Homo sapiens: one gene and its partner. The protein of the gene in region 1 purifies or fractionates together with the protein of each later gene. This does not show direct contact. Each region holds a gene or a part of one and is shown in the gene's direction. Other genes may lie near its edges. The genes, in order: SESN1 and WDR59.

Region 1 (3,821 bases):
GTCTGTCTCCCATAGGAAGGCTATGAGTTCTTAAGAGTACTGGCTGGGACCTGGAAGCTACTAAATAAATATCCAGTGGATGAACAAATTTATACTTTCTTTCTGTTTTTCATCAGTAGTCTGAATAGATGAAGTTTTCAGTTTAGGGAGTTTCCACCCCAGCATCATTCATTTATGCTTGCAGTTATGCAACAAATGTTTATTGAACTCCTGCTGAATGTCATTCTGAGAACTGAGGACCAGTGGTAACAATTTTGACATCATACCAAAGGGAAACAGACCATAAAGAAGTAAACAAATATAAAATTTAATTTTAGATAGTAAGGGAAAGCTTTCCTGAGGCAATGACATTTAAGCAGAGACATGATAAATGAATAAATATTACCCATGTAAAGGTGAGATTTGTGAGGGGACATTCCGGACATAGGGAACGGTATGTATGAAGGCCTCATGCCAAGGAGAGCAGATGAGTTCTAGGAGCTGAAAGTAATGCAATATGGCTGGGGCAGACAGTTTGAGGGTGGCGTGAATAGCTTAAGAGGACATACTCTGGAGTTTGGCAGACCTGGCTGCGATACTGTCATGTGTCACTTAATGATGGTGATACACTCTGAGAAATGCATCGTTAGGTGGTATCATATTTGTTTGAACATCATAGGGTGAAATCACACAAACCTAGATACTACACACCTAGGCTATGTGTTATATAGCCTGTTGTTTCTAGGCTACAAACCCGTACAGCGTGTCACTGTACTGAATACGCTTTGGCAATTGTAATGCAATGGTAAGTATTTGTGTATCTAAACATAGAAAAGGTAGAGTAATAATATAGAATTACAATTGACCCTTGAACAGCATAGGTTTGAACTGCATGAGTCCACTTATAGGAAGATTATTTTTTCAATAGAAGTTATACTAAGTTGGGCGGGGTGGCTCACACCTGTAATCCCAGCACTTTGGAAGGCTGAGGTGGAAAGATCTCCTGAGGTCAGGAGTTGGAGACCAGCCTGAACAACATAGCAAGACCCATCTCTACAAAAAGTCAAGAAAAAAAAATTAGCTGGGTGCAGTGGAGCACACCTGTAGTACCAGCTATTCAGGAGGCTAAGGCAGGAGGATCGCTTGAGCCCAAGAGTTCGAGGTTGCAGTGAGCTGTGATTGTCTCATTGTCCTCCAGCCCTCTGGCGACAGAGCAAAACCCTGTTTCAAACAAACAAACAAACAAAAGTTACACTTGAGTATGCCTGCCTCTTCTGCCTCTCCTTCCGCCTATTCCACCTCTATCACCCCTGAGATAGCAAGACCAACCCCTCCTCTTGATCCTCCTCCTCAGTGTACTCAAAGTGAAGACCGTAAGAATGAAGATCTTCATGATTATCCACGTCCACTTAATGAATGGTAAATATATGATCTCTTCATTATGATTTTCTTAATAACATTTTCTTTTCTCTAGCTTATTTTATTGTAAGAATACAGTATATAATATGTATAACATACAAAATATGTGTTAATTGACTGTTTATATTATCAGTAAGGTTTCCAGTCAACAGTAGGCTATTGTTGGCTAAGTTTGGAGGGAGTCACAAGTTAAACACAGATTTTCAACTGTGTGGAGGGTTGGCCCCCTAACCCCCTTGTTGTTCAAGGGTCAAGTGTGTAATCTTATGAGGCCACTGTTGCATATGGGGGTCCATCATCAGCTGAAATGTTACGCAGTATGGGACTGTACTTTATTAACTCTACAACTTTGAATAAGTTACATAATCTCTCCTTGATTCAGTTTCCTCATCTGCAAAATGAGCATTATGCTTATGGTTCCTGCCTCACAATGTTGCTGTGAGAATAAAATAAATGATGTTTGCAAAGCATAGCACAGTGCCTAGCATAAAAGAAATGCTCAGTTAATGTTAGGTATGCCTGCTATTACTAGGCAGAAACCAGATCCCAGAGGGGCTTATAGGCTATTTAAGGGTTGTGGACTTTATCATAGAAATAATGGAAGCCACTGGGGGATTTTGAGCAAGGTAGTATAGTGATTGATAGTGTGTCAGAAGGATCACTCTAGAGAATGGATTTCCATGGTCAAAAGTGGATGTGTGACATCAATTAGGAGGTTGTCCTACTAGCCTATGACAAAAGTGATAGTGGACTAGGATGTGAGGTAGGGCAGGAGGGAGTGGAAAAAATTAAAATGGGTCTGATAGATATCAAGGAGTTAGAAACCACAGGATATAGTATTTAGTTGGATTTAGAAGATGAGGAAAATAACAAAATTAAGCATGGCTCTAAAGTTTTTGGCTTGAGGTACTTGGTGAATTGTGCAATTGTTTTCTGAGACAAAAGAGTGGCAGGGGGTCAATTTAGGGGAAAAATGACTGCTGTTTTAGACATGTTGAGTTTAAGTTGCCTATGAGACATCCAAGTAGAAATAGCTCCTAAATGAATTTCTGCCCCCGATACCGCTGTTCTAGTTCTGTCACTGCTATGTCTTCTTCTCCAGATTAAACTCACCCTCCACTTTTATATCTATCCTCCACATAGCTGTAGAGCCATTTATCTAAAATGAAAATCTATGTAACTTTACTGGCAAAAGCCCTTTAGAATAGAATTGAATTTAAACTTCTTAATGTCATATAGTACCCAGCATTATCTGGCTTTCACTTACCTCTCCAGCTTCACTGCCTACCATTTTAGCATCAGCCTCACATGAGAAAGCAAATATTAATTCAAATGTAGCACTCCATAATGCTTTCTGTTATTCATTAGTAAAGCAGCAAAAGCTGTGGTGCATATGCAATTTCTGCAGCTGCTCCTGAAAGCCCTTAATTGCTATAGGTCAGCTAAAAGGGCTGTAGTTGGCAAGGGAGAAACGATGACAAGGTGGTAGAATGAATTCAATTCCAAGCAGCTAAATCTGTTAAAAAAAAAAAAAATGGACACATTGGGAGATAGCATCTTTTGTTTATACCCCAGTTCTCAATTTATTGATTCCACATCAGCATGTTTAAATATATTCACATTTTTGAGAAATATTCTGGGCCAGGCAGTCACTGTACTTAGGACTTGAAGATCAGTAAGACTTGTTTCCTGCTTTTGAAGAAGGTTTTCTATTCTCATCCAAGGCTTTATACTGGGTTTTTAAAGAAACTTTAAAAAGAAGAATTACACCTTTTGATACTCTTGATTCTCTAAACAAAGGAATGGGAGTATTAATACTGGCCCACTTTCCTAATATAGTCTACTGGTGAACTATAGTCTTGATGATACATGTAATTAAGGAGGAAAATATGAGAGCACATATGTATCAAAAGATTTTGAGGCCTATCCAGAATAGCCAAGTACTTTTCCAAGAATGGTCATTTGGTCATTTTCATAAGTTTGCCAGCAATCAATATTGTCTGAAAGTAAATTGGCTTAAGATAGAAAATTTAGAATAAGCAACAAAATACTTATCTTTGGTAAGTGGGGTGGTGGAGGCTTTCATTTAGTAAAGTGATTATTACCCCCCCACCTCCAGGAGAAATGAAACTTTCGTTGCTGGGTAGGATGCACATTTATAGCTGTTAGAGTTACAGTTGGAGTTGCAGTATCTAGTTGCTATCCAATTGAGTAATAAATAGATTGAAAATGTAACAATAAGTTTATTATTTCACATAATAAGTCTGGAGGTTGGCAGTTCCAAGCTTGATTGATTCATTGGCTCAACTACATTACTTGTCTGCTTTCTTTTTTTTGTTCTCCTTCCTCAGCATAGCAAATGATGTCTCCATTCCTACAGCATGCTATTCCAGGCACCATGTGCAGACATGACTATCTGCAGC
Region 2 (3,821 bases), on another chromosome or scaffold:
TAGCCAGAGTGATTAAAAAAAAAAAATCCAGGTTTATGCAGGTATAATTGTAGAGTTTGTTGGGTTTTGACAAATGGATGTAGTCATGTAACCACTGCCGTAATCATGATGTAGAACGTTTCCATCACTCCAAACAGTTCCTTGGTCCCCCTGTGTACTCAATCTCCATCCCTTATCTCTGGCAGCTGCTGATGGGATTTCTATAACAAATGGAATCATGTGATATGATGTGTAGCCTTTTGAGTCTGGCTTTCATTTTTGTTTTGTTTTGTTTTGTTTTTTGAAGGGACAGAATCTTTCTCAGTTGCCCAGGCTGGAGTGCAGTTGCACAGTCCTTGCTGAGTGCAGCCTCCAGCTCCTGGGCTCAAGTGTCCTCCCATCTCAGCCTCCTGAATAACTGAGTCGACAGGCATATGCCACCAGGCCTGGCTCTTTTTTTTTTTTTTTTTTTTTTTGAGACAGAGTCTCACTCTGTCACCAGGCTGGAGTGCAGTCGCACGATCTCGGCTCACCGTAACCTCTGCCTCCTGAGTTCAAGCGATTCTCTGCCTCAGCCTCCTGAGTAGCTGGGATTACAGGAGCCCATCACCACGCCTGGCTAACCATCTTTGCCAGGCTGGTCTTGAACTCCTGACCTCACGATCCACCCACCTTGGCCTCCCAAAGTGCTGGGATTACAGGCGTGAGCCACTGTGCCTGGCCAGTCCTGGGTAATTTTTAAAAATTTTTTGTGGGGGTGGAATCTGGCTGTTGATGCCCAGGCTGGTCTTGAACTCCTGGCCTCACACAGCCCTCCCACCTTGGCCTCCCAAAGTTTTGGGATTACAGGCATGAGCCACCACCCTACCTGGCGTCTTTTGCTTAGCCTAGTGCTTTTGAGATTCATTCTTGTTGTTGAGCCTATCTGTTAGTGCATTCCTTCTTCTTGCTGAGTAGTGTTCCAGTATATAGACTGCAATTTGTGTATTCATTCACCTGTTTATGGACATTTAGTTTTTTTCCAGTTTTTAGTGACTGAAGAAAGCTGCTATAAGTAGATAAGTATCAAGGCCAATTTTTATTTATTGATTTATTTATTTTTCTTTTTTGAGACAGAATCTTGCTCTGTTATCTACGCTGGAGTGCAGTGGCACGATCTCAGCTCACTGCAAGCTCCGCCTCCCGGGTTCACGCCATTCTCCTGCCTTAGCTTCCCGAGTGGCTGGGACTACATGCGCCCGCCACCACACCCTGCTATTTTTTTGTAGTTTTGGTAGAGATGGAGTTTCACCGTGTTAGTCAGGATGGTCTCGATCTCCTGACATCGTGATCTGCCCGCCTCGGCCTCCCAAAGTGCTGGGATTACAGACGCGAGCCACCGCGCCCGGCTGCATTGTCTCTTTCTTATAGATTAAGAAGAGTGTAAAAATTTTTCTGGATTCCAGTTCTGTATGGTTATATATATTGTAAATCCATTCTCCCAAGTTGTAGCTTGCCTTTTCATTCTTTTTATGGTATTAAAAATTTTTTTTTAATTTAAATTAAAATTTTTTTTTTGAGATGCGATCTCGCTGTTACTGTGGCTGGAGTGCCTATTCACAGTCACGATCATGGTGCACTGCCTCCTTGAACTCCTGGTCTCAAATGATCCTCCTGGTTCTGCCTCCCAAGTAACTGTGTCTGTATTTGTGAGTTACCACTCCCAGCTATGTGCTGTCTTTTGATGAACAGAACTTTAATTTTAATGCAGTTAAATTTATGGATTATGCTTTTTCAGTCTTGTTGTTTTTGTTTTCAGACAGGGTCTCGCAATGTCGCCCAGGCTGGAGTGCCGTGATTTTGAATCAGTGCAACCTCTGCCTCCTGGGCTCAAATGATCCTCCTGCCTTGGCCTCTTAAGTAGTTGGAAATGCAGGCACACACCACCAGGCCGGGCTAATGTTTGTATTTTTTATAGAGCCATGTTGGCCAGGCTGGTCTCGAACTCCTGGGCTCAAATGATCCACCTACCATGGCCTCCCAAATTCTTTTTAAGTCTTCTTAAGAAAAATGTTTAGGCCGGGCTTGGTCGCTCACACCTGTAATCCCAGCACTTTGGGAGGCCAAGGTGGGCGGATCACAAGGTCAGAAGATCGAGACCATCCTGGCTAACACAGTGAAACCCTGTCTCTACTAAAAATACAGAAAATTAGCCAGGTGTGGTGGTGGGCACCTGTAGTCCCAGCTACTCAGGAGGCTGAGGCAGGAGAATCGCTCGAACCCAAAAGGTGGAGGTTCAGGGAGCCAAGATTGCGCCCTTGGACTCCAGCCTGGGCGACAGGGTAAGGCTGCGTCTCAAAAGAAAAAAAAAAAAAAAGAAAAGAAAAAGAAAAACGTTCGTATCCTAGATTCATAAAGAAATTCCTCAATATTTTCTTTTATCTTGAAATTGAAAATGAATCATCTCAGCAGAAAGTATACTCTCTTCTGACCTAATAATGGTTGGTGATTTATTAGTCTCAGCATTGCAACAGCTTTGCCACAAAGATAAAGATTGAGGACTGTGTTTTACTCTAATAAAAACTAAAATAAAAAAGCACAACTCAAATTATTTGGCTAGGAGCAAAATTATAAGTAATTAATAATCTGTGTGTTTTTCTGGAGCAATCCAGCTTCGGTTCCTACTTTTTTAGTTTCATACAATGTTCATTTTGAAAAACTATAGAGATGGAGGGGCAGAATAGGACTTTTTGGTGTAAGTGACTATTAATATGTATACTGTGAAATATTTTTTCTTTTTTAAATAAATTTATATATGTGTATTTTAACATCGAGATGGGGGTCTCACTGTGTTGCCCAGGCTGGTGTCAAACTCCTGAGTTTAAGTGATCCTCCCACCTTAGCCTCCCAAAGTGCTGTGATCACAGGCATGAGCCACTGCACCTGGCCTATTTTTTTTTTCTAGAAAATTTAATATAAAGATGTGGTGATGAATGGGAGAAGAACAAAGACGTTAAGGATTTCGTGCCAGACTGTGTTAAGATTTAGGTTATGCCACCTGTCTTCCATGTGATCTTGGGCAAGTTACTTCCTTTCTAAGCTTCAGTTTTCTTTTTTAAATTTTTTTTTCTTTTTTTTACTTTTTTTTTTTTTGAGACGGAGTTTCACTCTTGTTGCCCAGACTGGAGTGCAGTGGCATGATCTCGGCTCAGTGCATCCTCCACCTCCCAGGTTCAAGCAATTCTCCTGCCTCAGCCTCCCAAGTAGCTGGGATTACAGGCGCCTGCCATCATGTCCGGCTAATTTTTTGTATTTTTAGTAGAGACGGGGTTTTACCATGTTGGCCAGGCTAGTCTCAAACTCCTGACCTTAGGTGATCCACCCGTCTTGGCCTCCCAAAGTGCTGGAATTACAGGCATAAGCCACTGTGCCCAGCCTTGTTTTTTTTTGTTGTTTTTTGAGACAGAGTATTGCTGTCTCCCAGGCTGGAGTGCAGTGGCGCGATATAGGCTCACTGCATTCTCCAACTCCTGGGTTCAAGCGATTCTCCTGTCTCAGCCTCCCGAGTAGCTGGAATTACAGGTGTGTGCTGCCATGCCTGGCTAATTTTTGTATTTTTAGTAGAGACGAGGTATCGCCATGTTGGCCAGGCTGGTCTTGAACTCCTGACCTCAGGTGATCCACCGACCTTGGCATCCCAAGGTGCTGGGATTACAGGTGTGAGCCTCTGCGCCCGACTGACTTCCTTCATTCATAAAACAAGGATAGTAGTGCCTACTTGTGTTGGGGGTTCCCCAGGCCATGCCAGGCTCAGTGACTTATAAGGAGGCTTCACAGTCATATTTGCAGTCATTACATATTAC

What was found.
Region 2: the proteins of SESN1 (region 1) and WDR59 purify together in Homo sapiens (co-immunoprecipitation; one study listed by IntAct). This does not show direct contact.

Annotation. Positions count from the first base shown.
Region 1 is NC_000006.12:109,088,172-109,091,992, reverse strand, and holds part of SESN1 (sestrin-1), read left to right. Parts: intron 1-3,821.
Region 2 is NC_000016.10:74,974,955-74,978,775, reverse strand, and holds part of WDR59 (GATOR2 complex protein WDR59), read left to right. Parts: intron 1-3,821. UniProt on the Homo sapiens protein: As a component of the GATOR2 complex, functions as an activator of the amino acid-sensing branch of the mTORC1 signaling pathway. The GATOR2 complex indirectly activates mTORC1 through the inhibition of the GATOR1 subcomplex.